Linked DNA regions of Homo sapiens: region 2 is linked to region 1. The links come from fine-mapping of genetic effects on gene expression. Tissue or cell type: gastroesophageal junction. Region 1 holds a variant in brackets; the other region holds the start of a gene. All regions are shown on one strand. Distances are from middle to middle.

The links.
Region 2: it holds the start of TSHZ3, and the variant in region 1 is fine-mapped to the expression of TSHZ3 in gastroesophageal junction (GTEx, PIP 0.95).

What each region holds. Positions count from the first base shown.
Region 1 is chr19:31,318,675-31,333,730 of GRCh38, forward strand. The region is part of intron 1 of TSHZ3 (teashirt zinc finger homeobox 3); the gene reads right to left. It overlaps TSHZ3-AS1 (TSHZ3 antisense RNA 1), which reads left to right and starts at 3,157. Exons shown (of 3, transcript XR_002958388.2): 1 at 3,157-15,056. RefSeq lists an enhancer at 196-697. The variant G/C (reference allele first, on the strand shown) is at 6,391.
Region 2 is chr19:31,343,209-31,358,264 of GRCh38, forward strand. It overlaps TSHZ3 (teashirt zinc finger homeobox 3), which reads right to left and starts at 6,228. Exons shown (of 2, transcript NM_020856.4): 1 at 5,972-6,228. The coding sequence starts at 6,011. It overlaps TSHZ3-AS1 (TSHZ3 antisense RNA 1), which reads left to right. Exons shown (of 3, transcript XR_002958388.2): 1 at 1-5,709. RefSeq lists enhancers at 9,435-9,936, 9,937-10,436, 11,379-12,022.

The DNA.
Region 1 (15,056 bases):
TCTCCTATTATTTTTATCCTTTTATTAAAAACAATGAAAAACAATTATGATAAAAGATGGTATCAACATGTATAGCAATTATGTCATAAGCCCAACTATGGCTCAGAAACTTCGCAGGAAGTTCATTCAATAAAAGTATCTTAACTTGCCATCTCTAAATGATGAGATTTCCATTATCAGGAACAAACGATCCGGTCACCAATACTGTGGCAAACACCTAGTCCCAAGAGCAGGGCTTTATAGCAGCTCTGGTGCCTCCTCATGGGCTCCTCCCATGGCCCAGACAATCCTACCACCCTGGTGCCATGGCTAAAAGCAGCTCATTAATCTCAGCTCTGTCTGATCAAGGATCCTCTGAGCCGGAGACCAGGGACCTGAGAAGTTGCTTTTCCTGGGTGAGTACATCTGAATATAAAAAGCAGGCGTCAAAACTGTCTCCTGTTAAAAGCCACCTAGTTCATTCCCCTATAGAGAAAAACAACAGGACTTAAGGAAAGTGTGGATCCCCACCTCACAACTTAGCAACACTGCAGAAACAAGCAGGCTATGAATAGCACCTGCCAAGACGGCTGGCTCAGCTGCAGATAAAAAGAAGAACGTTGTCAACACAAAAGCCTTCTATTACAAAATAGAGAAAAGTAGGTTTTCCTTCTTTAAGAATTTTGCACATAAATCATTGTTTCCAATAAACATTGTAAAGGTTTCATCAGTAATTTTTTTTAAAAAAAGCTACTCATATATATGAAGATCACTTGGTGAGACACAAACAATTAAGCCACACTGAAGAAGTGAAAATGGCTGAAACCCTAAGGTGAGCATATCCAGGTCTGCACAGCAAAACCCAGCCACAACCTGGGCTTCTCCCCTGAGCCCCAGCCCACCACTGAGGGAGACTGATGTCTCTGCAGGACTGAGAGGCAGGCCCTGAGGAAACCCGGGCTCACCCACCATGAGCTCATAGCCCCTCAAAGCATCACCAGGCAGAAAGTTTCTACTAGAACACTGAAGAGGGACAAATAACCACCATGACAACGGTAATCACAAAGAAAACAACAGTGTAACACCTTTTGTCGCCCTCAAAAGCACAAACATCACTGAAACAAGTTTTCTTTCTACTTAAGCTGCTTTGAAAAAAAAAGGCTGCTACTAGGGGCAGGAAGGCAGGCTTCATTAGCTGAATGACATATATGGACTCTTAAGATGCAGCCCCCCTGAGAAAGTAGCAATCGGCCCTTCCTTCCTAATTCTTTCCAACACACACGCAGTTGATAGAAGTGATGGAGAGTTTCTTGCCAAATCATCCTAAACTAGGACGTAACCGCTACAGCCTGGCTCAAAAACCAGAGCTTAGAGCTGCAGATGACCTGACGTATTAGGGAGCTCACACCCTGAAACATTTTCTCGGGTTACATCTGATCTATACAGAAACAGATGAAATATACATGTAGGTTCTTAAGTATAATAACCAAACAAATGCCTGTGAACAAGGACCCAACTTGAGAATGACAACATGACCACGGGGCTTCTCCACCGCTCAGGCAGGCGGTGGGTAAATATGACCCTGGACATGAATGCGTGACCCCCAAGCAATACTAGGCTCGTGTTTGCTTCTGTGCTTTGTAGAAAAGACGGATCCTGGACGTAGTCCTTTTTGACTTGCTTTATCTACCCATATAATATCACTAAGATCCATCCCTGCTGTTGCCCGTGGCTGCCGTTCCTTCATTTTTACTGCTCTAAAATATTCCATTGTGTGAATGTTATTTATTTAACCTTAAAGAAAATGTCTTTCTGAGACGTGACACCTGGAGTGACAGGTGTGTTCTGTGCTCTGGGCCCACCTGCGAGGGATGATAACTGCAGTTGTCCTCGGGTTGGGGGCCACATGTTTTATGATGTGTCCTTCTCGGGAGAAGGGACATGTTCAGGATGATCTGAGTAACTGACCTCTCCCTGGACCTAAGCCTTTGAAGGTTGTTGTAGTTAAGACACGGTCAGGTGCGGGTCCAAGAGACAGCACTAATGGCCACTGCGCCTGAGTCTGCAGTGCACCCAGGCTGCAGGGAGGAAGTAACCAGGAGGCTGAAGTCTCCTTGGCTCTTGGTCCCTTCCACTAAGACATCCTGGCTTCAGCTGTAGGTCTGGGTGTTCCTGGGAGAATATCTGTATCTCTGGTTGCAGGATGTCACTGAGTCCTGCGCAGTGTTCAATTCTGAGATGACTGAAGGAGAAGGAGGCAGAATTCCCTTCCCTACGGGTCCTGCTGAGATGTTAGCAGGTGTCAGGACAGGTCATCCGGCCCAGAGCCTCAAGATCCATCGTCCACAGAAGATCTGCTTCACATTTTTAAAATCATAGCTTGGCAACTGTCAATACATTGTCTCCCACTTTGCAATACATAAAGAATGTAAAACTGTGTCCTGTTGAAGGATGGCAGTGATACCATGCAAGCAAAATACAGTGCTTTATAATTTTTTTTCCAGCATCCCTTTCCACCAAGGCCTGGCCAGCTCCTTAATGTCTAAGTTCATCCTCTGAACCTGATGAATCAATCATTCCAAGGTGGAGGTGGGTAATGACAGTGCTGAGAAGGCCATGGCTCTCACTTAAGGCTGACATGGGAGACAGGCAGGGCTGGACGCTGCTCACTGGCCCGCCAATCGGAGCTCTACCTTCCAACTTCACAGTGCCCCTAGGACATGCCCGGTGGCGTCATCACATGGCTCACCACTGAAGCACTCCAGAGACCGTTCCCCGTTGTTTTTAACTGCCCACCTAGCAAGTGCATTTCTGGTTACTCTTATGAAATCTAAACATGGAGCCTACAGCTCTGCCTGAAACCTCATGGAAACACACCAAGGTGTCTGCATACGGCAGACTCACGCCAGGTTAACGCAAGGGGCCTGGCCACAATCAGGCAGCAAGGTCAAAAGCACCTGACACTAATGATGTATCCTCGTTTCCCCACAACAGCAGGCCCGACGTGGACAGCAGTACTTTCCATCCAGACTGTGTGTGAGACAGAGGGAGTGAGCCAGAGTTGAGGCCAGGAGAGAAAGAAGGTAGTGCTTAATTGTCGTTGATTACATATTTATTAAATATATATTTTTATATATATTATGTATGAGTAAACGCATTTCCTTGAAGATGTTTTTTCTTTTTCTTTTTTTTTATACTTTAAGTTCTGGGGTACATGTGCAGAACGTGCATGTTTGTTACATAGGTATACACGTACCATGGTGGTTTTCTGTACCCATCAACCCATCACCTACATTAGGTATTGCTCCTAATGCTATCCTTCTCCATTCCCCCTACCCCCAAAAAGGCCCCGGTGTGTGATGTTCCCCTCCCTGTGTCCATATGTTCTCATTGTTCAACTCCCACTTATGAGTGAGAACACGCAGTGTTTGGTTTTCTGTTCTTGTGTTAGTTTGCTAAGAATAATGGTTTTATGTTTGTTTGTTTTTTTTTGTTTTTCTCAGACGGAGTCTTGCTCTGTCACCCAGGCTGGAGTGCAGTGGCACAATCTTGGCCTATTGCAATCTCTATCTCCTGGGTTCAAACGATTTTCGTGCCTCGGCCTCCCAAGTATCTGGGATTACAGGTTCCCGGCCAACACACCTGGCAAATTTTTGTATTTTAAGTAGAGACAGGGTTTCACCATGTTGGCTGGGTTGGTCTCAAACTCCTGCCTTTGCCTCCCAAAGTGCTGGGATTACAGGCGTGAGCCCCCGTGCCTAGCCTTATGTATGTATTTTTTTTTAGAGACTAGGTCTCACTCTGACATCCAGGCTGCAATGCAGTGGTGCAATCATAGCTTACTATAGGCATGAACTCCTGGGCTCAAGGGATTCTCCCATCTCAGCCTCCCAAGTAGCTGAAACTACAGATGCATGCTACCATGCCCAGCTAACTTTTAATGTTTTGTAGAGACCAGGTCTCACTATGTTGCCCAGGCTGGTCTCGAACTGCTAGCCTCAAGCGATCCTCCTGCCTCGGCCTCCCAAAGTGCTAGGATTACAGGCATGGGCCACCATCCCCAGCCAGTACTTACTTTTTGAATGGATGAATGAGTGAAGGAATAAATTAGTGATGGACATAATAAAGGAATGAGTGAATGAATGAATGAATGAGTGACAGAACGAATGAATGACTGAATAAATGAAACTAATTATTTAGTTACCTTCTTCCCAGCCACAAAGCTCTCTGATACAAGATAACATCAACATCAAGGATTAGCAATATATGTCTATTGATGAAAATTTGGAAAATAAAGGCATATAGAAGAAAGCAGAAAAATAAAAACCCTTACATTTTGGAGTGCTTATTCCTTTTATTTTCCCTTTATAATGTGTGCATGTGTGTGAATGTGTTGGGTTGGTATTGTATTTGGCAACCTGCTTTTTTCACGCAACATTGGGTCAAGAGCATTTCTCTCACATGAAAATGTTTTAAACCAGCCTTCTGCTATCAAATGCTGAGATAACCTCAAAGGAGTGGAAGTCCATACAGCCAGACACCAAAGGCCAGGCCTCCCTCTTCCAGCCAGGAGCTGCCCAACTCACCCAGGAGCATGCTGCCACCGTAGATCCCTGAGTTCCACAGAGTAGCCTATGATCATGAACTTCACTGCATGGCATTCAGCACTCTTTACTATTCAATGGTTTGGGGGCCTTTAAAAATCAGAAAGCAAATGCTATGATCCAATGGTGAGCTCCCGTAAATAGGTTTAATTGTAAAACATCACATTTATTCCAGATGTGAAGACACATGAGTTTTGCCATTTAAGTAGAAAGACAAAGCATAATTCTATCAATGCATATTTTTCCTTTTCTTTTCTTTATCTTTGTTGTGGGTTTTGTTGTTCACCTCTACACAGCTTCATTGTCAAAGAACTCTACCAAGTGGGAGCACTGGATTTACCTCTGCTCTCAGTGATGCGGCTGGTTTACGAATACCCAGATGATTTCACATTTGTAGACCCAGGATAAACTTTAAGAAATGTCCACATCTAGACCAGGAAGAAGTTGGCTTCAGGTGCAGATACATCAGGGTAGACCCACCACAGTCTCCCACACAGTCACCCCATCCACAATCACCTTCCCACACTGCCACACACCTCAGAAAGATGTTTTCTCCCAGGTGGTAAAGACAGCAGCTGCTGCTCTTGTACTTGAACCTGGCCTCCAACACACACACACACACACACACACACACACACACACACACACACACACACACACAGTGCATTGCAGGATAGGCAGCCTAGGGCATCCCTTTGCATGTGGGGCTACCCTCATTCAAGGCATCACCGAGGGCTCAGGGATCAGAAGCCACGAGGGGCATCTTCACAACCAAAAGCAGGAGGAAAAAACGTCTCCGCAGCACCCAATTTGATGCTGGCTCTCCGCCCCTACATCAACTTGCACAGCCAAGCCCTCAAGGCTGTGCACACTGGGCCAGCCTACCATCAGTAGAGCAGGAAACCAAGCTACTAGAGAGGCAACCAAGGTTGTTTTGAAAGCGTTATTATTATCATTATGATTTTAATGTAGTAGACTTGTGAGTTTTCCATCATTATAAATCCAGTCTGAATTTTCATTTTTAACGTTTACAATTTGACTATTCAGAATGAAATCTTAAGCAGCAAAGTTTGGAACAAGATGAATACTGCCAGTTGACTTACACCTCCCGCATATAAACAATTGTGTCAAGTTAGGAAAACTAATATAATTTATGTAAATATCCTGATTTCTTTGATATCAACATAACACGATGAAGGCTTCAAATTCAGACACAAGTTTCCAACACTGCAGCATTGAGACAGCTTTCCTTCAAGCACCTTCCAAACCCAAAAGAATGGGCAAGGGGCGTGAAGCCTGAATGGGAAGTGACTTACCACTGGGTTTTAGGTTTGGAGGCCTATGGCCTCTGGTATATGGAACTTCCCTGAAATCTGCCCCACCAGCATTCTGCACCAACTCTCTGACACAACAGTCCCTCTGTCTCCACTACCATTGCTTCTAAAACAAGGGACAACCCCACTTAGAAAGGCAAAGTATCCTTGCATTATGTAGGCCAAGTCCAGAGGGGAAAACCCTTTAAAATTAGAGAATCTCTGGGTATAGTGATTCCATGGAAGCACAGTGATTTTTTTTTTATTTTTTCAATTCCGTAAGTGGAAAGTGAAGAAACCATTTTCATATGAGCATATTTTTCTCCAAGGAACAGTTAGAAAAATGCTGATGTGGTGTCTCAATACGTTTTACTACAATGCCATCAATTACATAAAAACAAAATTAAGTCACTGTTTCAAAATCCTTAAATATTATTCAGCTAAAACCCAAAAGGACATTTTCAGTATTCCTCGGTCATTATCTAAGAAGCTCC[G/C]CGCTGTAGCCAGCCACCTCCGCTGTGCTCCGTAGGAACTAAACATAGGTAGTATACGGGCACAGTGCCTCTGTGTCTTGGCCGTTGGGCTCTCTGAGCGACCTCAGGTAATGAGGATGCCTATGGAGAGGGCTTCCGCAGTCCGGCCACAGAGCCAGGCTTTACACCCTCAGTGCTTTCACTGGTCGGGACCGGCCAGGGAATGACATGTGAACTTAGGCTGGTCTCAGTTTTCCCGTCCATCCAATGAGGCTGTCCCTGCAGATGAATTTAAAAGGCTGTGATCCTATGAATTTACCTATTTGCTGTCACCCAGAGACTGAAATAAAAAAGGCAAAGATGTCTGAGATGAATACAGGGATTCATATGCTTTCATATCCGTATCCATTTTTGTTGATGCATGGAGGCTTCTGGGTGCCTGCTGAGCGAGAGAAGGGGTTGCTGACTGTGATGCTGTCCTACCTAAGCGCTGACGGCCAGAGACATCACGCGCGCACTCCCACGCAGCTGTGGGAAGCGAAATGTGTGTGATCTTTTTGGAGAACAGTTTGGATATTTATCATTTTGTTAACCTGAACATACCTTTTCAGCTAGCAATTCCGCCTGTAGGACTGCATCCCACAAGGATGTAAGTGGAAGGACATTACTATACAAAGGCGTGTGCAGAAGGATGTTCACTATGGTACTGTTTGTCAAAGAAAAGACTAGAAGCAACCAGAATGTCCATGCAGAGGGTAACTCATTCACTAGAGTCAAACGTGGCCCTTAAAAAGTATAAGGCAGCTCTGTGCAACAAAATATGGTAGGATATAGCAGCTGAAACCTAACATGATATAAGATGATGACTGAGATACATAGATTTGCCACCATTTTATTATGTACAATGTAATATACACAGCAAAGTTTAAAGAATTTTGCCTGTACACCCATCACCTAGTTTAAAACTTTAACATTCCGCTTTATTTGCTTTATCACATATATACCCATCATTCCATGTATCTTAACTTTTGGATGCATGTCAAAGTAAACTGCAGATATCCAAAGTATATTCTTAGACAAAAACAGGTACAACATGGAGTGTAAAGTGTGGATTTCTCATTTAAAATATTTAAAATATACTTTTAATTTAATGGCAAAACTGCAATTACTTTTGCACCAACATAAATATCTAGAAGACTATACTACAAACTGGTATCGGTGCTTGCCCCTAGGGAGAAGAACTGAGGAGCTGGGGTTAGAAGAAGACTCTCTTTTAACTGCATACCCTTTGATTCTCTTGAATATTGCATTATGGACATCATTTTGTTTAATTTAAAGAATGACAATGCATCCACTTTCATGAGAGAAAGCTACTGTCAAATCTTTCAGGGCTCTAGGTAGCTTCTGTAGAGCAGCCCTGCATGCTTAGAAGCCTGGCGCGTGTGTGTGCATGTGCACACGTGCCTGCGTGTGTCTGTGTGTGCATGAGCACGCGTACACACCCACACCCAGATGCTCGGAGCCTGCACAGTGAGGGTGGTGCTGACCTCCCCTCATCTATCGCTGTAAGTCACTTTCTCATGGGGCTGAAACCTCGGAGTGTGAAGCAACCATCTTCAGGAGGCTCATTATTTAATTTCCAAGTAAGCAGCTGCAAAAGACAGCATGTTTGTTGCTGTTAGGGAGAACGGAGCACATGGAAGACAGGAGGGAAAGGCAGTTCCTCTGCTCAGGGTAGCTCTGCACTGCGAGTGCCCATGTCTCAGTCTCCCTTACTGTAAACATTTGTGCAACTTCAAATAAATATCCTCCCCAAGTCTCACGCAGCCTTCGGCTCTGATGGAAACCCTATGTGTGCCCCAGTGTGCCAGTGTGCACAGGCCAGAGAAGCATGCAAATACAGGGGAGAAGTCCAGCTCCATGTGAGGAACGCCAGAGAAGGCATCCTGGAGAGAAGTGAGCAGTCCAGAATGTAGACTCTCCTTCCTTACAGCACTCAGCCAGGCTACTGAAAGGCAGCAGCTTTCTGTTTCATTAAAAAAAAAACCAGCAGAGGAGTAAAAAGCCCTTAGAAAAAACATAGAATTAAACATGATCATGAGAACAGTACTGTAAGCCAAACCTTCAAAGGAAAAAAGAATATTCCACGGCATTACTGGATGTGTTCGACCAATTCCCTTCTTCCCTGAGACCTGTAGCTCGAGGTTCTAGACTTTGAGCCTCTGGGCTACCGCTGCACATTTTTGAACAGCGATCAATTTCCTTGTGTGTTTTAAACCCTGGGAATCATATTCTACATGTGAGAGATAGTAAAATAGATTTTAAAAATTGAGGTAACTGAATATGTGGAGTTATGTCAACATGTCAGAATAAATACCTGAAATCCTTACTTTTCTACATATGAAAGGGATCTGATATCTAATGAGAGGGAAGGAAAATGCACTTTGTTAGCATTCTGCTTTATTCTTGAAAACATGCATATAAGGCTAGTTTTAAAAATCCCTCTGATAAGAATAAGACTGTGAGAACACTGATTTCCACTAGGTGATACACATATGTACCATACATATACATACATATGTAAGAATACATATATGTACACACAATACACGTATACACGCATATAAATATACAGTGTATATGTAACTGAGCCAGGCAGTATACTTAAAGGCAATAATATGATAGTATGAAGGCAATTTGTATCTTACCACATATTGAAATAAAACACCCTGCACAGCCCCTAAACCTCAAAATCCAATACACAAAATGAAACGAATTGCACTGGGAAAAAAAATAAAGAAATGAGAAAATGAACTACGATATTCTCTTATTTGTTTAGTGTTCTCTTTCTCTAGAGTTTACATGGACATTGTCTCTAGTTGCATCTGCAAACCAATACATCGGCTGTCAGATCACTAAGGCATTTGACAACATCATTCTAGAGCCTTTAGTTACTGAGATATCAATAATTAAATGCATTCAGTTCACACTTTGTTCTTGCAGATACCAGCTATTTATCTCTGTCCTCTGAAGAAGCTAATGGTATAATGGGCAAAACATCAAGAATAATTAAGAAAAACGTTGCTACAAACTCTGTCAGAAGAAATATAACTTTTGCCCAGGCCCCCAGCTAGAATTCATTTATACAAGATCCACCCAAAACCAAGGCACCTTTGCTGAAAAGCGAAGTGCTAGGCTCATGGAGCAGGGAACTCACTCACTCTGTCCACCTGAGGGGAAGACCAGTGGGCACTTCTCTGAGTGTGAGCCTTGAAAAGCCTTGGGTGTGTGCATATAGCATCAGCTATAAAACAGCGGGGACTGCGGGCCACGTTGGCACCTCTCCCACACCAGGGATGGGCTCTGGAAGGCCAGCCCAGGCTGACAAATGGCAGCAGGACTGACTTGCTTCAGTGGACTGGCCCCTGCTGATGGAGCCCAACCTTCCTGCAGGCCATTCACCTCCCAGCTGAGCCATCCATGTTTCAAAGCTTGTTTGCAGCATTAGCTGGTACCAAAACAGAAGTTCTGAGAACATCTTATTCAAGGAATGGCGGGTTAAATCTTAACAGGTCTATTTTTCTTTAGTAGAGAGTGTCTCTCTCCTTTCATATCCAATAACAAATAAGAAGAGAGAAACTGTGAGGTGTTTTCTTCTTTAGGTAAGGGTCAGGCCTAGATGGTATATAAACTCCAAACAGATTATATTTTAAGTTGGTGACAATTAATTACAATACCGTATACATACTGCAGATAACACAATTTAAGATTAAAGAATTATCTGGAGCCATAGTAATGGGAGATGACTTTGAAGAGGCAGCCTTCCAGATAAGCCATGTCACATATCTGCATATCCTTTCAAACATCTTTGTCACCTAAGCGGGAGTGGCTCCCAATCACTGTTCACCAATCTCACTTGCGGAAGAGTTGGTAGTCAACTTCCTGTACAGGGGCCGTGTGAGCTCCTGGATGTCTACCTTAAACTTCAAAGAGCCACATTTACAGAAAATGAAATGCTCACATTTCATCATTAAATTACACTAGGCTCCCAATCTTCATGCGGCACATGTATTGCACTGAAAACGGATATTTGTTATTAATGACAAAGATATGGAAAATGTGAAGTTGAAATAAGCTACCCAAACTTAAGAGAAAGAAATGTTACAGGAACTGCTTTGTCAACCCTAATTGTGTAATTACTTCTTGGCTTGGTCACCCAAGCTCCGAGCAAGAAATAAGAGACAATGGTAATTTCTTACTACTGAAATGAAGGTGTCACGCTGCCTTGTGCATTCTGTGTAAGCAGGGCTAAAGTTTACATTTATATCACGTTACCTCCATTACAATCATCCAGGCCACTGCAAGAACTTAGTGGTATAAGGTCAGCCCTGGCAATGGGCACGCTCAAGTTTACTTGCACAAACATTTAATTTAGGCAGAGTGGAGGCATCTCTGCTTTTGGTCATCATCTTACCCCTCACCTCACACCGGTGAAATTGGTGAACTGCTACTGGCAACTTGCAGACTCACAGCAATAAAATAGTGTTTTTAAATGGTGCTAATACAGTGGCTACCAATAAAAATGAACCACTAGATGGCTTTAGATTTTTCACTTCTGAATATCGGAAGATGCATTATTTATGGTGTCAAAGCTAAACCTGGGTACAGCACTTGGGAGTGGGGGTGTTTGTGGAGAGAGAGGCAGGAACACCGCCCTGTGTAACTCCATCCCTTTCTCTCTTCACTCCACAGTTCCCCTTATAGCTCGATAATTAATTACAAGGCCGCATAATTCTATCTTCAGTCCCATCAGCGTTGGGTCAACTAAGAGCAAGGATCACATGCCAAAATTGTTGTGTGTTTTTTTTCCACACCAAGTATGAACCACTCCTCATTCTAATGGAAAAAAGAGCGCAGACACACAACTAGGAAGAGAAAAAAATGAAATTCCATTATAACTGGTTTCCTCAAGCTCCAGCCTAGGATATGAGTAATCATAAAAACTGTAATATCAGCTTTTTTGTTTTCCTTAACACTGGGTTCCTACTTTATTTCCTTTCAAAGAGGGTCAAGATCCTTTTTTTTTTTTTAATTCATAAAAGCTGCTGTGTGATAACCAAAAGGTTGGTTTCTCTCTGTAATAGCTCTGCCTTCCGTGATACTTTTAAATTTGGGGGCAAAAATAAAACTCGCTAAACTCTCAACAGCTGCCCTGAGTGAACTTGAAGCCCCTCACCTGCCTGGCCCTCAGGCCTTCTGGAAACATCTAACGCCTAGCAGGGGTGGAGCAGTGAGCTGACCGGCAGGCATGGACCAGGAGCTGCTAGCACAGGCCTCGGGAGGTGGCCTCCGGGCTGCTTGGCCGTACCTTGAGGACTGGCCTGACGGCTCCCAATGCCCGAGCTCCCATGTGAAGTGCAGGGAGGAGCAGGTCAGTGGCCACAGCAGCCTGGCCTGGCCTGGGTCACACCCTCGGTCAGCATCGCCCCAATGTCACTCTCTAGTTCTGTTTTCTCCTCCCTACCCACTCCCACCTTAACCAGCCACAGGGAATGGCGGGGTGCAAAATGGAGGCTGTTGACCTGCTGTGTGATCCACACCTCCCTCTGGGCTCAAAACATCAATGTGCTTTTAACAAGGAGCCAAGTGCTGTTTAATCCTTGGGCGGGGGGAGGAAAGTCCAGAACACCTATGGGTCATGAAGCAGCCCACGCTGAGAAGGCGACCCCAGACCCCAGACGGAGGTGTCAGGAGCTTGTTTTCCCAGCACTTCCTGTTGGCAGGGTCACAGCTCTACCGAGAGAAGGTGGGCCGTACCCCAGGGCACAGGAATCAGCATTGACATGCCCAAAAACTGACATGCATGCTTGTCCCCCACAGGCACGGGCATGTCCCCAGTCACCATGGTGGCAGAAGGACAATGGGAAACGCAGGGCCTGCCAGGCAAATTCTAGCAAAGACGGGCTTCCTAAAATCTCCCTTCTACATGAGAGCTGCCCAACCCAACGGCAGAGTTATGACTCACCGAAAGGGATACCCCCTCCTTCCCTCTAAGGACTGAAGGAGGGAAACGGCGCATGTAACCCTGGCCTAAGAGAGACCCCCGGGCTGAACCAAAGCATCAGAGATTCAGAGGGCACGCGGGGAATGTGGACAGAGCGACACCAGGCCTTCCTGAGCTCACCTGTACCAGAGCCTCAGGAAACATGTCTGTAAAACCGCTCTCATAGTAAGCACTTTATTATCTACTTTTGGCGCAGTGATGAGTTAAAGGGGCATTAATTTTCTTTCATAGCCTGGAATAGCTTATTTATCATTTTTTTTGTCTTTGTCACTGATATTTCAGATCTGCTGCGAATTGCTGTTTTTTTGTTTTGTTCTGTTTTGTTACTGTTGTTTAATTAATCTGCACTCATACAACCACCAAAACAATCACGGTCCTACTGGTACCAGCAGATGTGGCCGAAATGTGCCCTGAAACTTCCCAACTGCAGCTCGACCCTGCTTGCAGTGCTGTGTCATAACGAAGGGAAGTCAACTCAAGATGCATTTTCTGGAAATGCCATGGACGCACAGAGAGAAGAAACTACAAATAGTGTTGCAAGGAAGGAGGCCAGCGGCTGCATTCACTGTGTCACTGCGGCCAAGGTTTCTGGGTACCTTATGTTCACCACCTGCCACCTACTGTGGTGTCAGAGCTGTCTGGTCCAGCCGGGACAGTCAATTGATTTTCACAGAACGTCCATTTTATGTTTCCACACCAGAGCACGCTGCACCTTCGTAAGGAGGGGTGGCTGCTTCTAAGGGCAGAGCGGCTGGGCCCCAGCCAAGCCTGCCTCCCTGACTGCAGAAGATGTCACCTCCCCCGGGCACTTTCTTCTGGGCAGGGGCAAGGAGGAGGAAGGGAGAGGAGGTACGTGAAGAAGATGTCCCCCATAAAACCAAGGGTGTTCCCTTCTCAACCTCTCCCTTTTCCCCCTCTAACTGAGTCTCCAAAAAATGCATGTTTCCATTCACAAAAAGTATGCAGAATCACTGATGGGAGCAAAAGAAGACCCTTTTTCCTATTACAGGCAAAACCTAGGCTGATTCTCTTGCTTCCTTCAGCTGTCAATGAGGTGGTGTGTTCCCGGCCTCCTGACAATATAATCATCATAAACTTTATTATTACATCTGGAATTTCATGATATGTTTAGTAATTGATTACAGAGACACAACCCAGAATGCGGCTCCCACTCGCTCTGCCACGATTCCAGTAACCTAACTGCTTAATACCCCTGGAATGTATAAACAGTGTTAACTGCTGCATTCCCCACACTGCCATGGCAGAAGGGAACCACGGAGCTGGTGGGGCTCTGAAAGCTCAAGGCCATTTTCACTTACTGAATATAATGTCATGGGATAGAAACTGAGATCACATTTTTTGGAGCCACGATGACCGACGACCCCTCATCAGATGTGATTGGGGCACAAATCCACTAAAATTATCAGCTGTATTGGGGAACGGAGATGTGCCATGAAGTTTGCACAGGGCCATCACCCATCCCTACTTAGTCTCAGTTTGGTGGGGACTCCAGTTTAGGGGACTGTGATTACTGGGGTTCTTCAAAAAAGCTGCACAACTCGCTATTTCTAATTTTATGAACACCGTGATATGAATGCAATGCAAAGCAGAGAAAAAGCCATATTGGGTCAGGCCTGCAATTACAGTGGCTAGTGCACTTACTATCTCATAGGAATAAAGGCAAAAAACAAAAACAAAACAAAACAAAACAGGGGTAGGCCAGGCACATGGCTCACACCTGTAATCCCAGCACTTTTGGAGACCGAGGAGGGTAGACTGCTTGAGCCCAGGAGTTCGAGACCAGCCTAGGCAACATGGCAAAACCCCATCCTACAAAAAATAGAAAAATTACTCAGGCATGATGGTGTGTGCCTGTGGTCCCAGCTACTCAGGAGGCTGAGGTGGGAGGACTGTCTGAGCCCAAGGAGGTCGAGGCTGCAGTGAGCCATGATCATGCCACTGCACTCCAGCCTGGGTGACAAGGGAGATCCTGTCTCACAATAAATAAATAAATAAATAAATAAATAAATAAATAAATAAATAAATCCAGGGGTGAAGGCCACACTCAAAGTGTCTGGGAGTTGGGGCCTCAGAGAGATCTACATGAACAGGGCATTTGTTCCCTCCCACTCCCACCAAGGGAGGGCGAAGAGCAATGCAGCTGCCCTCCCTAACACTACTCCAACTCAGGAGGTTATGACCAAGGACATGCGAGCCCCTCTCTGGGTGAAAATCAGCTCCATTCCCCCTGCAGAAACGCTCCCACTCAGCTCTTGTGCCTACACTCTCCCTCCTGTAACAAGTCAATTTACAAAAACCAGACCCATCTCAGCAAGGGGACCTGGATCGGCCCTTTTCACCCGCATATCATCTTGAACCCAAACAGTCCCTTGAACCAGCAAATCCTCAGCCAACCCCGTGGCATGCAGAGTGTGTTATCTCTCCAGGCAGATCCACTTTATAAACCACCAAAGAAGCCCCATGGAAGGTTCTGCTTGCAACAAAAAAAACAAACATGCTGATGTCACTCCAACCTGAGCTCTTGGGCCCCAGTGATGGGGCCCGGGGGACTTTACAGTGGGATGCTTGTCCCAGAGCTGCCTCTCCAGGCCAAGTGAGCCAT
Region 2 (15,056 bases), 25 kb after region 1:
TGTCCTGACAGTATGAATTAATAATTTATCATTAAGCCCAAACAAATTTAAATTATTCTTCAAGAGCCACACCTTTGCATATCTGAGAAAATAAGGTAAGGAGATGGTTAAAATGTCCAGGTAACGTGACCTTCAGTGAACTACTCGCCCCCACCCCCCGGACTGTATCTCTTGGACTATTCTTGTTGAAATGCTAAAATAATTTACAGAATTGAAAGTAATTAAACCCAAGAATCTAAATGCTGATCAAACTAAGTGCATGTGCTAGAAATGTCTTCTTTTTTAAATGGGGCTTATAAAATATTCAATATTTGGTCAAGGACACTCTGTAATCTTTCTAATAAAGATTCCTAAACCTAGAGTATGACAGTTGTTCAGGCAAGTGGTCATAAGAAGATTATGTTCTATTACTGTCTTTTTTTTTTTACTTCCAAAAATGCATAGCGTTATTCTGGTCACAAACAGTGACCTGAATTTTTAAGTCCATTTCTAAGCGTAAATTTCTACAAATGGTGAAAAATTAAGAAAAGCTACCAAGTCTATGTCTCCAGTCCTTACAATTCAGGTTTTTTTTTTGTTTTTTTTTTAAAGAAAATCCAGAAACAGGGGAAAAATATTGATAGCCATTGTTTAGTGGGATTTAAAAATTTAGTGACTAATTGCAAATACTGGAAACTGGAATTAATCTGTCTGGATTTTTTTAAAAAGGCTTACAGACATTTAAATGCATGTATCGGGACACTTTATCAACCTAACATAAAATTGTCATCTTATCTTATTATATGACTATTTTATGCATGTGTCAAAGAATTTAAAAATGACTGCCTGTCTATTGAGTCTAATTACAACTGCACATTATCTGTCTGGATGTACCAGTCCATATCATTGTTACTAAATACAATATATTGTATTCACCTTTCATTTGTAACTTCAGACAGAGAAACCACAATTTAGAGCATAACTAAAACACAGACACAGACACACACACGCACACACAGAGTGAACACCTGCAAGGGTTTGGGATACTGGATACCACTGTTCCCTTCTGTCCTTTTCCCCTCCATGGGCTTTGAGGGTGATGCTACAGGGGTGTGATAAAGCAGCTGATTTGAAAGATCCAACTACCTACCTGGGCTGGACACTAACACAGAAGGGTAGACACACACACCCTACTTTATTTCATTTTTATTAATTGTTTTACGACATGACCAAAGCTATTTTTACCCTCTGCCCAGTGACAGGCAGGGATGAAAATGGGGCAGGAGGAAAGCCTTACAAACTGCACTTGGGATAACTGTGAACTGCTGCCACTCTTGGATTAAACATGGCTGTGTGCACCAGGACCGGGCACTTCCTAATCCTTTCCTCTCTGCCTCCCCGCGGGCCTGCCTGCCTGCCTGCCGCAGCCCTGGCCCCAGCCTGACTCTGGCAGGACACGTGTAAAAGAGAAAGCACCACAAGAGGTCCAGGCACTCTGCCTTCAAGAAGGTAGGTCCTTTCTCTTTCCAGAAATCCCAGGAGTGGAGGGCGGCGGTAAAGGAATGGTTTTAATTCTCTCAACTCACCTGGGTTTCACGGTATTTCCCACAGCCCTGAGCAGTCGCCTTTCATTCTAATCACTTGACAAAACAATCTTTAGCAAAAAGAGGGGAAAAGGCAGACGTGTGAGGCAATTTAGGGAATCGCTGCTGAGGCATCAGTTATTGACTATCTGGCTCCTGTTTATGAGCGCGCTCAAGGCAAAACTGAGAACAAAATGACAACATCAACAGCTCACAATCAAGTGTGGCCCTGGAGAGCACTGAAGCCCTAACTGACAGCTGTCAAGATAATGGGGGCACCGCAGCTGATTCTGGAAGGTTCTCTTCCCCACGTGGACATCCAAGGGAATAGCCTTGCCTCCCACCTCCTTTGTTTTTCTCCTTCGTCTTCTTGGCTTTCCTTTTTAGAATTTGCATTGTTGCTCTCATTTCGTAGGAAATGGGGGAAGAAAAAAATCATAGAACGGTCAAAACCAGTCGCTCTGCCACCTTGCTACAGAGTAGAATACCTGTCCAAGGAGAAATACGTGGCAGGTATGAGACGAAAAAAATTCCCAAAGCTAAGGCCGAAATGCCCTTCTGAATGCTCCATGTGCTTCCAAGAGAGAACGGAAAAGCTCCTTCCTGGAGCTGCCCGATGTGTGGACCAGACTTAGGAAGGTGTCATCTGGACACCACCAGGTGGGCCACCTCTTAGGCATGCCCATGTCTACTGGCAACATGGAACCCCCTCTGGCTGTTCCAGGGGGATCCACAGTGTTCTGTGGCACCAGCAGACCCTAGGGGGTCCAAGTCACTTTCACAAAAGTCAAGATGCTTGAAGATTTACCCTTGCCTTGTTTTTACCACCTAAGAACTCCACGGAACATTACCCCCTTTCAAAGAATATAGCTTGCTGGCAAATTGTGGTTCGATGGTTTCTTTTTGTTTTTTGTTTGGTTTTTTTTTCTTTTGGAAGCATAAGAAATGGTCTTTTATGATTTCACATTTGCCTCCAGAAAATTAATATAAGTAAAATATCTGCTATTAAGTATTACACTAAAATTTTTCTGGCATTTTCAGAAATGTTTTTTAAAAACCACTCTGAACAGGAGAAAATCATGCTTTAAGCAGGGGATAATGGTCATTTTGCCTGAAGGACACTGTCCTTCCCTAACCCCACTCCTCTGAGCTTCTAAAAGCAGCAACATCTGTCCAGCACAAATGCACACCCCCTGGAAATTACAGGTCTCAAGGAAGCAAACTCCCGCCCAGGTTTCTCTTTGGCAGGTAAAGAAACCTCTCTTTCTCTTTGAGAAAAGACCCTAAGCCATACATAGTTTCTATCAAAACATCAAAAAATCCTAAAGTACAGAAATATGTATTTTCAGGGATTCTTGGAGCCTGCTTCGGCCTTCGGGAAAGCAATGATACATTGGCCTAGATATGAAGACCGTGTGTACCTGTGTGCCACGTCTGCTCGCCCTACCCAGCTCTTGGCCTTTTGTGGTTGTTATTCTACCCTAGACCATTAAAAGGGCCCTAATTCCTATGACATGATTATCCAGGTACCAAAGCCCATTTGTCACCTGCAGCAGAAAATTGAGTTAATGCACAACTAAAGGCAGCCAGGACTGTGTAATATCAACTTGATTACATCAAACTAGCTGCAAACCTAATTCTGCTGGATGACACTGCGTCGAGCTTGTCATCTCCAATCATTAAAGCTGTCAGGAATCCATCAGGTTTACAGCTAATTAGGTGAACACTAATGAAGCTGGCAAAACAACTTTTCTTTTTTTATGGCTGAGCGGACCTTTCAGTTTGGAGGGGAAAAAAATTCTCGAGTATTCTCAAGGTTGCTGGGGACTGGATTTCCAGTTACCAATCAGCAGACATCTTTCTTTTCCCCACTCTCTCTCTCTATCAGTACAAAGCAATCAATTTGTCATCACTCCCAGTATGCCACAAAAGCTGGCATGAACCTTATAACTTGCAGCTGGGAAAACTAAAAAAGAGGAGAAAAAAATGGGAAGTTTCTGGTCCATCCAAACAAACAAACCACCCCCAAAAAAAAAACCTCTGTGCATACTTATCACCAGCCTAAATGTGGAGTTTTTTTTTTTTCTCTCCACTCTTCTTAAATAAGTAGCTCTTCAGTCCGCCTCCACCCCCTCCTCCACATGTCCATTAGGCAGAGGCATTCTGATAAAGTAAATCCAAAACCCGAGTATGGGAAAGAAATAAAGCACTCATGCTGCCAGCTTCTGATTGACCATTAAGCTATTGATGAATGTGCCTGTCAGGAGAGAGACAATTAAATCAAATATGAAACAAAGTCGTTTTGACGGGTCATTTTGATAGAGCAAAACCATTCTTCCATCTCCTATTAGTCCTGCAGTCAAGTTTTTTATATAATGAATTTTTCTTAACTGACCTGAGATTTCCTGGCTGGCTTTCTTTAAAAAAAAAAAAAAAGTGTGAAAAGGTTAGTGAACAGGTTGCTCTAAAAATAAATAAATAAATAAATAAATAAAGCCAACAGCAGGTTCCCTCCTCCTCTGATATTTTTCTGGAGGAAGCTATCAAATACGAGTCTCAGATTGGCAGGGTGCAACCGAAGAGATGAACTAGAGAGAGAGTTCTGAACCAAATGTAAAGATGTAATCACATATGGTTCATTGGATGGAGGCACACACATACCTTAAAATGTGTATCCAAAAAGGAAAGAAAAAAAAAATTTCAAAGACTGGAAGAAGCCCAAGACATTCCTACTACTCAACTTTGTGAAGGATTCCTCCAAAGTTTCAGAGTTTATTTTGGGTAGATAAGCTCATTGCTTGAGCCTGGAATTTAAAGTAGAAGGTGGGACGGGCAAGAAGCAAGCTCCAGGAGGTTAACTAGGGAGGCGGCAAGCTCCCTACAATCACTCCTGGAATTTTCAAACTTTCTAAATTTGGGCAACACCGAGGACAGAGAGCAAAACCTGCATCCTAAGCCCCAAACCAACCCTGTTTTCTTCTGAGATTTTCTGAAGACACTGGCAGGCAAGTACATTTCTGGGAGAAGAGAGAATTATCATTCCTTCTCTGTGACCCCGTGTAAGGGGTCTGGAGTGCAGAGTGCAGCCAACGTGTGAGGTCCCCTGGCAGTGCCGGCTGGCATGATGGAAATTATGGGCACTCAGGGCACCATGGCTACAACGCCTTCCTCCAAGATGGGCACCAGCCAATGCCCTGACCCTACTCTCTGCCCTTCCCTCTTAACATCAAAAGAGAAGTAAAAGAAAGGAAGAGAAAAGAAAAGAAAGGAAGCCCCACTTAACCCTCCCCTTCAGGGAGCATCTGAACCTCTGCACATCTGAGTGTTACTCATATCAAAATACATCACGTCCATATGTGGTCCTCTCGGCAATCCGCCCCAAATCCCAAAGTTGCACTGACAGGGCCCTCCTGACGTCACAGAGCTTGGCCTCACTATTGCAAGTGATTTATTGATGTTTATTGGGAATGAATAGATCAAAGGCAGCAGCATGACGGGCGATCAATCAGTCATCAAATCAAGGATGGCAACGGGCCAGAAACCCTTCTTCCAGGCAACATGCCCCCAACCGACATTATTGCAAAATAATGTTATGTGTGTGGTTTTTGTTTTGTTTTCAATGATGCGTTTTCCAGAAAAGAAAAGAAAAAAATCGGCTCAGTCTTAACAGGAGTTGACACTCCCGGTTAAAGAAGAAGAAAAAAAAAAAAAAAGGAGGAACAAAAAAGTACTCAGACACGTCCCAGAACTAAGTGCTATGCGGAGATGAGGGTGGGAGCAGCAGTACAAGGAGGGGGTGGGGGCGAGGAAACACAAACAGGGGAGAAGGAAACGCCAGCATCTAACATGGACTTGACAGTCATCTGACAATACCCAGACCCTGTGCGCTCCGGGTTCCACCGCTGTGCCCAGTTTGGGCCCAAGAAATGAGGAATCAATCGTGTTAGTACTAAGGTGGCCGAGGGGACCGGCTCGCTCACTCGTTCGCGCTCCCTGGCTCGGCGGACACCAGGCAGTCCCCCGGCGGTCGGCCGCTCGGAGGACGCGGAAGATGTCCCGGGGAACTCAGGTGACCCCGCCCGCCACCCACAGAAAGAGCCAGGCCGGGGTTGCTTCCCATTCCCTCTGCAGCCGGAGAGCTGAGGAGGTAGGGACCTGGCGCGGCTCAGCGCGCTCCGCGAGCGGCTCCCCAAATGGGTGCGAGAGGGAAGAGGGCAGAGCGCGGCGGGGCGTCCGGGGGGCGCCCGGTACCCGAGGCGGGCGCACGCACCCAAACAGGAGAGCGGCGCCCGGAGTTACTCAGTGCGGGCAGAAGAGCGGGGCGAGGAGCGGGGTCGCGCCCGCTGGAGGCGCGGGGCGAGCGGAGGAAGAGGAGGAGGAGAGCAGAAGGAAGGGGAAGCGGCTCGTACCTGCTGCGCGCCGGGGCGCCTGCTGCTTCCTCCTCGGCATGATGCTTCTCCGGCGACTGCCACTGCCGCCGCCGCCGCCGCTGCCGGGCTGAGGACAGGGAGGGAGGGGGCGGCGGGCCCGCGGGGGGGCGAGGCGGGCCTGCTCTCAGCCTCCCCCCCGGAGAGCGGCCGCCCGCAGGATGCTGCTGCGCCCAGGCTCTCCGCGTCCCCCCCGCGCCGCGCTCCGCCGCGAACCCCGAACGTGCGGAGGGAAGAAGGAGGGCGGGCGAGGGAGGCTCGGGGAGGGAGGAGCACGGGGGGGAGGAGGAGGCAGAGGAGGAGGAGGTGGAGGAGGAGGAGGAGGACCGCGCTGCCGGCGGAATGGGAAGTTTGACAAATCGCTCCAGAGGCCAGAGGAGGAGGGGGCGGGGAGGAGCGGCGGCCCTGCCCCCCCCCGCCCCGTCCCCAGACGAGGTGCGCGGGGTTCGGGGCTGGGGGGCGGGGAGAGGGCGGGCAGAGCGGTGGGAGGAGGAGCGCGGGAGCGGCCCGGACCGGTACTGCCCCGGCCCCCGCCCCTAGGCCGGGGGTCACGGCATCCGGGGGGACGCGCAGCCGCCGCCGCGGCCCGGGGCTCGGCGGTCCAGTCTTCTGCCCGTGGCGCGGCTGGAGCGGCGGCGTCGGCAACAGGCAAGCTTAAAGGAAAAGGAGATGATCGTGTCAATCGCCCGCCCGCGGGGGCGCCGCGCCCCCGCCCCCGGCCCCAGGCCCGCGTGGGACCCCCGCCCCGCCAGCGAAAGGGGTGCCGCCCCTCCGCCTCCGCCCCGTGCGCACACGCGGGGGCGCGGCGCCAGCCCCGCCGAGCCCGTCCCGGGGCGCTCGTTACCCCCCACCCCTATTCCCACCCAGCGTTCGTCCCCAGCCACCCCCCAGCTGCCCCACCCGGCTCGCACTCCTCTCCACCCGCCGACTCCGGAGCCCCCAGCGTGGTCCCCGGGCCGGGGCTGGCGTCCCCCGGGGAAGCCAGAGCCCACGGGCAGGCCCCCTCCAGGGAGGAGGCGGGCGCGGGCCGGGGCGGGTGGGGGCAGCCCTCAGACCCCGCGCCACCCAGCTCCTCCCCCAGGACCCGCCGTAGCCACTTCCCCCAATTTTTTTTCCCCGGACAAACTTTCCTGGGCCCGTCCCGGGGGTCGGTGTGGGAGGGGGTTCCTTCAAGTTTCCTCTCCTGACTTTGGGATGATCAGGGTCCCTCCACCCCGCCCCTCGCCCCCGGGAGCCGGGCCGCGCCCCCCATCCACGGCGCGGGCCGATCCTAGGGCGGGACGGGGGCGGGAGAAGGAAACCGGGCTCCCCTGCCCATCCCCCGCCAGGGGCTCCCCCCGAGAGCCTAGGGGGCCGCCGCGCCGTGTCCCGCGCCCGGCCTGCCGGGGCTGCTGGACTAGAGGGATTGATTATTGATTGGTGATCGGGGTCGCTGAGGCTCCGGGCCGGCCCGGCCGACTGGCCGCGGCAAGAAGGAGCTGGCTGGGCGGCGTGGGCGGCGGGGCGACGCGGGCTCACTTACGGGCGGCGGTGAGGGCGCGGGTGGGCCGGAGCTCATGCGGGCGACCCCCGGGCGGCGGCGGCTGAGCGGGAGCCGGAGCCCGAGCGGCGCGGGCGGCGGCGCATCGATGCGCTGCGGGCTCGATTGCGTCTCCCTGGGCCAGCTCTCAGGCCGGGAATGGGGCGGCCGCGCCGGGGCCGGCTCCGGGCGCTGCCGGGCGGCGGCTGCTGGAGCGCGGGGGCGGCCTCCGGGCCCACTATCCCCGAGGCGGCCCTGCGCCCGGGCGCGCCGGCTGGGGCTCTGGCGCTCTCGCAGGCCCCGAGGCCGACAGTCCCGGCGAGGGCGGGCGCCCCGCGCTCCAGCACCGGCTGCCTGAGCGCTCCTGGAGCAGCAAACCCCAGACTTCTTCCTCCTTCTCTCCTTCCTTCCTTCCCCCTCCCCTTATCTTTTTCTTTTTTTAGTCTCTTTCTCCCTCTTTTTCTGCCCTGTGTCCTTTTTATTTTTTCTCTACGACTGTTTTTGCAAGTTTGTTTCAAAAGTTCACAGCATGCTTTCTTTTCTTTTAGACCGGGAGACAGTGATCTCACCCACACGGTAAGATCAAAAGTCTCCGCTCGCCCAGCCTGCGGGCTTGGGCTGGGTCCAGACGTCTCCCAGGATGCAGATGCGCCGCCGCTGGCCTCCCCGGCTATAAAGCCGCCTCCAGCGCCTTTCCGCGCGCAGGAGCGCTCGGAGTTGTGGGGTACGGACCCCAGGCGGGGCAGGGAGTCCGAGGCGGGCTGCGGCGGGGCTCTCGGGCTGGCGGACTCGGGGGCTGAGGCGCCGTGCGCGTTGGGTGCCCGCGGCCGCAGAGGCCAGAACCGCTACTCCTCCAGGCCGGGGAGACGCGGCCGTGGAGCGTGAAACGCTTCTTGCAAGCGAGGAAACGGTGAGTTGGCCGACACCGCCGGCGGCCTCACCATTCTGGTGGCCGCGCTGAGCTCCTGTCGCCTGGAGGCGGGTTGCGCCGCACGGGGTCAGCTCCCGCCGGCTCCCAGCTCACCTTCGAAGCTCCCACTTAGGCGCGCCCGGTGCGGCGTGTGCACAGCGCGGGGCGCCGCACACGGAAGCGTGTAGTTCTCCCTGGTCGCGCTTTTCTCCTCCTTTCCATCCCCTCGCTGTTCTTGCAAACCTCTGTTCCTTCGGCCCCCTCCCACTGCGGGCCGCGGCCTGAACTCGGGTCTCCGCGTAGCCGGCCGCCGCCGCTGGGTCGCTGCCTGGCCCTCCCCCGCTCAGGCGCCGAGCGCTGTGCGATCCGCCCTAACATCTGTCCGTCCAACCATTGGCGCATCCATCAGTGTCAATGGGCTGCACATTGCAGCGACAGCCCGCCACGCACAACACGGGCTATGCGGAGTGCACGCAGCAACCATACTGCCATGTCGGGACACGCAAAAAGGCCCCCGGCCTGGCTTGGCACAGCCTGAAGGCCTAATCTGTGTTCTTTCAGCCACATGTACCCACCCCCACTTAATATCTGGACCCCCAAACATGAATAGTTTTGCAGACCATTGTAGGGATGGAATTGAAGGAAGAGGGGCAGTGTCGCCCGAGTCATTATTTTCCACCAGGTTTTCTCTGCCCTTGTGTGGGCTGGGTGTGGCTAGGAGAGAAGGAAGGGAGACTTCCCAAATCCGCACCAAGCACACTGCAGAACCGGAAGCTACCTGGATGCAAGGGCTTAAACCCCCTTCACCTGGGCCTAGGATGTGTTGTCGAGGTCGCTGGCCAGGTTTTAGCCAGGAGGTCTCGCGCTAAAACTTTTTGGCCCCGCCTGGCTGCTGTGTGTGACATGGCCTGATGGAGAGGAGCTGGAGAGCGGAGGAAAACGTGGATCCCAGTGAGAACTAAGGGCCAGATTTAGGGAGAAATAGTGTCTGGATGGCAGTAAGTCTGTAATTCACATTTTGTTTACAAAGGGAGAAAGGGCAGGGCTGTAGGTTTGAGAAGCCAGAGGTTTGCGCGGAGTTCCGTGTGCCCATTCCCCGAGAGTGCCGCTCTTGGCTGTAGTTGTTTGTTCTACCTGATTTTGCCTCTTGCCTTCAACTCCCCCATAACCCCTCCCCAAATGTCCAGAGGGCAAACATATGCGCATACCTCCCTGATCAATCCAGCCAGACCAAAGGGCCTTCCCTGTCCTCCCCCTAAGAACTTAATGGGAAGAGTGTACGGGGGACCTACTCTTGGGACATCTGCAGGGCGGCTGTACCAGGCGTTTTACCTGACTTTATTCTTACCGCAAAGATTTCCGTCTCGGTACCTGGTGCCCCCTCAGAGTCCACTACACAAACGGGTAAAATCCCGCGCGGCTATTCATTTCGCCATTCGCGAGTAAGAAGGGGAAAAGGAGCCGCTTCTAGGAGAGCACTGAGGTATGCTCGGTTCGGTTCCCGAGGAGGCCAGAAGCGGCCGCGGCGGCGCGGGCTGGAGCTCCCTCCTGCAGGGAGACACCGCGCTCTAGGGTGCGGGCTTCGCCGCCCACATCCAGTGGTCGAACTGTTTTCACGCTAGACTAGAGGGCGGAAAAGTCTGCGCCCGCGGAGAAACTAGAATTCTGTAGAATGTACACTGTGTAGAAATCTTTTCACCCCACTCTTCAGAGTTGCAGATTATCTTTGAAAAACAACAGGCTCTGGCCCTGCCAGCCCTAGTAACTTCTACCCGCCTGAGTCACTCTGAAAAGTAAGCCCCTAGGCCAGTGAGATGTCCCCACCTTTGGGAGGTGCCGCCTTTCCGGGAACATTAAAAAAAAAACCCTAAAAATAGAAGGAGGAAAAATGAGCAAAGGCGGTGGGACGACTCACCGAAACACCGAGGTGCAAATGTCCATTGGAGAAACTGGCAGTCGCATGGCAGCCAGCTGGCTCACCCAATAGCTGGGTGGTAACCTTGTGATCCCCAAACATCCCCCAGGGCCATGAAGGCAGTGCTGACCCCCACGATTGCACCTCAGGCCCGGTGGAATCCCGCTCCTCCTCCATAGTGGTGCTATGTAATCAGTAGAAAATCAGTAGAAAAGCTCCCAAATGAAGCTGCTTCAGGTCAGGGGTTAGAAATCTGCCTCAGACTTTTTGAACTCAAGGAAATCGGGACATCTGTCCCCAGAGCTACCTGTGCCCCACCCCAGGATCATTCATGACCTTAGCTACCGGGAGCTCTGCCCGGATAAGTTTTTAAAAGAGAGAGAGAAAGAAAAAAGTCACATGCAGGCAAGGCTAGGAACAGGTGTGTGCTGTGGGGACGGGCACTTGGCTCGCAACACACCACACAAAGTCACGAAGTCTGTGCCAGAAAGGAGTAGCCAAACCACCGCCGGGAGGCAGCCGAGGTTGTGTTTAAGGTGGCGATTGAGGGCAGTAGGTGACAACTCGACCCAAAGAAGGCCAAGTCTTGTCCTTATCTGGGGTGGCCACTGAGGGAAAAGACTTAAGGGAAAGAAGTTGTCTTCAAAGCTACCATTACAAGATGAGGAGCTAGAGTGGGCTCAGGTCCCAGGCACCCAGGGCTTAAGCCTTGATGTTGGAGAGGTTCTCGGAGGGAGGCTTGGGCCACCTGGAGGGACTGGGCACTCTGAGTAGTACCCTCTGGGAGGCTGTACCCCCTTTCAAAGTGTGAGGGCATTTGCCCAAGGTGTAGGCTTTTAGGGAGCCCAGGGCTGGGCAGCACCAGGGGAGAGAGGCACCAGGTGGGTGCCCTCCTGCCTGCACTCACCTGGAATGCTGGCATATGGGTTTTTCGCCTTCCTCACGCCTCCCCACACCACATTCTGGGCTAGGCAGTGTCGAGGAGGTGCCTTGGGTTCAGGGAAGCTTGCCACCTGCACACCTGAACCAGGAATTGGGCCCCGGAATCTCAGCCCCTGCCCAAGCAGGAAGGATAGGGACCCTGGCCCTCGCCAGGTGGTAAATTGTTTGCTAAAAGTGCATTTACACGGCGGCGAAGTTTGTTTCTCTTTTACCGGTAGCTTTGTTTTAACGAACCAGATGTTTTGTCTGTAAATTCTCCCAAGAACTTTTCCAGTTTTGACGTGAAATAAACCTTCGAAAATCAGAAGAGTATATTAATACCACTTCTGTGGGGCCTCAGGAGAGCTGAGTCAGGTGTGCCTGGATGGGAGCTGGGGGTGGGAGTACAATCTTTGGAGAGAAGTAGGGGGCTTCTCTTGGCCCAAGGTCAAGAATTGGTTTGGGGGAGGTGAAGTGCCTCCCCGACTCCCAAAACAGGCGCACACACACGCATTGTCACACCAGAGTACGCACTCCCAGCCCTCCTCCAACCAGGCATAGCTTGCTACTTCGTAAATTTCTTGTGGCTTGGGGCACAGAGATGTAGCTCAACTTTGCAGACTGTGTCCACTGCATGCCGCTGCCGTTTTCCACGAGGACCGCCTGACTGAAAGGCAAAGGGGCCTTCGATCTTCTTCCCGGGGCAGCTTTGATGCCTGAGTGTGCGGGGCCGGGGCCGGGGCCAGGGCAGAGCAGGGTGGAAGCTGGTGCCCCTGTCTGGCCCACCCTTAACTCCTGGGCACCACTCGATTCGGGAGAACTTGGGGTGGAAGCCGACCTGGTCTAGGAAGCCACAGCCTGCAGGTCCCCCTCTCCAATGCCTCATTTTTTCCGATTTAGGATTTCCAGGCAGTTATAAACACCTTAAAAAAAAAGACCCACTTAACAATACACCTAAAAGAGGGAGGGAAGGAAGGAAGGAGTACGGTTATCACAGGCGTGTGGGGAGAGGGAAACCAGGTCTGCCTAGAAACCCACCTTCTGGTCCTGTGAGTCATAGCGGCCACTTTCTCGGGTTTCCCAAGACAGGAGATGGCGATTTTCTGCTCCCTCCCCTCTCCCCAAGCTTTCCAGTGCTCTGAGTCTCACATCTTCAGATACCTCTTTCTTCCTTCATTCTCTTTCGTTCAATCATCTACGGAACTTTCAAAAACTTTTTTTTTAGGAGAGCGAAGATTAAATAAAGAAAATAAAACGTCTTTGTATTTCAGTCTAAGGAGGACAGATGCACATTAAACTCAGTTTGGAGCGCTTAACTCCAGGCGAAATGCCCTTTTATCAAATCCCACGCGTCGACTTGGGTTGCGCTGGGAATTTCACGAATTCCTCGCTGCAGCGTGGCGTGGTTTACCCCCACCCCCACCGCCACCCCACTTTGGGTGAAATGGATTTTTGGAAACCATTTAAGCAGAGCTAAAAATAAGGGTGGGGGGATCCCTACACTAGAGATAGCTGCAGCCACCTAGGGGCTCACCCCTGGTCGGGAGCGAGCAGCTATTTGCTAGTTGTAGCTCAGGGGTGCCCAACTCTTCCCGTGTGGTTGCGCCAGCTGCCCCGCACTGCAGGTATCTGAATCATTACGTGGGCAACCTGATGCGGCTCTGAACCCCAGCTCTTTGAATGCTGGAATCCTGAAGGAGGAGGATTCCACCAGGTCTTAGCCGACCAGATAGCCCAGCTTTCTGAGGCTGGTGACCTCATTAACTGGCCAGGGAATTTGCAAGACCAGGAATAATCACGTTTCCCAGTTCTTCTTTCCTACATTGCTTTTCTCCTCTGTCTTCAACGTTAGGGTTTTGTGTTTGTCCCTAAATTTACAATTTACAAACGGGGAAGACGGAGCCTAAGTTTCTGCAGGGCAGGTACAAAAGAGAGGGACAACACTCTGGGGGCCTCATTCTTTCACGTTTTTGTTTCTTGAAATTTGATGGATATCACCTTAGTTCGGCAATAGGAGGGCCAGGGTGACTGGGGACATGGTGGCCCGAAGGGTTAGATAATATAGCATGCAGGTAGTCTCTGATCTCCAGGGCTTTGATAACACCAAGATTTTCCTCCTTTGCAGAGCAGTCCTAAATTCTGCCTTCTCCCTTTTCTGCCGCCTCTTCTCTTTTCCCCATTTCTTTCTTCGTTTCTTTTTCTGTTTTCTTTTTGTGTGCCTCTCTTCCAACAGTCCCTCCTCCACCTTTATAAGACTTCTCAAAGGTTATTTATTTAAGGTCTACCAAGTGCTAGCCCCAAACAGGTCCAGTCCTTCTACCTGTGGCAAGACGGAGGCTGTTACCGCGTGCAAATAGTGAGGGAACAAAGTAGTTTGGAGTTTTTTGCAGCTTTTTTAGGTGAGGGGAAGGGAGGGAGGTCAGAAATAGGTTGACACTTGGTTTGAAATAAAAGAGCATGTTAAGAAGTTTCGAAGCTGCCAATAAAACCCTTTAAGTGGCTTGTGATTCAGTGCCTGGAGTTGCGGGGATGGCATTGGTAAATGACTCTAATGCCCAAAGAAAAATATTACAAATGCCGCTGTCTCGGCCACCAATCGGGCGCCGCTTTCCTGCGCGGGCGATGGCTCCTCTCTGGCGCGGAGGGCACCCACATTTGCATGATAAATTGACCAGACTGGCGGCAGCCAATGAAATATTCAAATTAGGCTGGGTGGCGGTAGTAGGGGTGGAGTCCCTGGGGCTGCCCCTTGGCGCGGCGGCGGGAGCGGGCGCTACCACCTCTCCGTCAGCGCCCTCTGGAGGCGGGACAGCGCGGGCGGCCGCTCTGGCCCAAAAGACGAGATGGGGGGTTGGGGGTTTGGGATGCAAGGGGGTTTGGGAGGGGTGATGGTGGGGTCTGGGTGGTGCTTCGCGGCCCCAGGAGGCTTTCCGGCTGGCCTCGTTGACTAGGCGTACAGCAGCGTCTCCGCATGCCTCTTGCCCTTAAAAGTGTTGATGGATTGCAGAAGTGGATGGTGACCCCAAGGAGGGGTTTCAGAAAGGCTCCAGCCTCCTTCGCCCAACCACCTTCTCTAGGTTCCCCTAACAAACCCATCACTTAAGTTAAAAACGTGTATTTGCTCTTGTTGACTTAGCTTTAAGACAAGATTCTTGCCCACCGCAGACCACATGGCCAGCTTTCCCAAAGGCCCTCTGATAATGAAATGGTGGAGCAGATATATCAAACTTTCCATCTTGCCCTGAGCCAACGACCCTGCACCCTCACAGGCCAGGGCACTCTGGAGGGCACCCTGCCTGGAGCCCCAAACCTTGGGTAAGCTGTGGGAGCCTAGGCAGGGGCAGGCAGTGCCTGGAGGCTGGCTTCAGACGGCAGAACTTCTCACCTGGGAAAATGCTTTCTGGAAGAAGCACCCAGGCCTCAAGGCAGCTCCAGTGAGGGGGCAAAAAGGGATATACATAAGGCATAAGGCGCTGGCCATGGTTAGGTAGGTGCTCAGCCAGGAAGATAGGGCAGATTCACATGGGGGAGATTGGCTCGGTGATGAGACCACTTCTGACTCCACCAGAACCAGGCCCAGCTCTTCCTGGAGGTCCTGACTCAACGGGGACTTTTGCATGGGAGCCAAAGAACAGTGGATGTCTCTTGTCCGCTGATCATCTCTTCCCTTCCCCCACCCCATATTCCATCCCATGCCAGATCCCTAGGCTGTGCCTGTTAGAGCTACTGTAGCACCACATGGACTTGCCTTTAAAGCAGAATTTTTAGAAGTGCAGTTGCTTTTCTTTACTCTGCTGTGGGA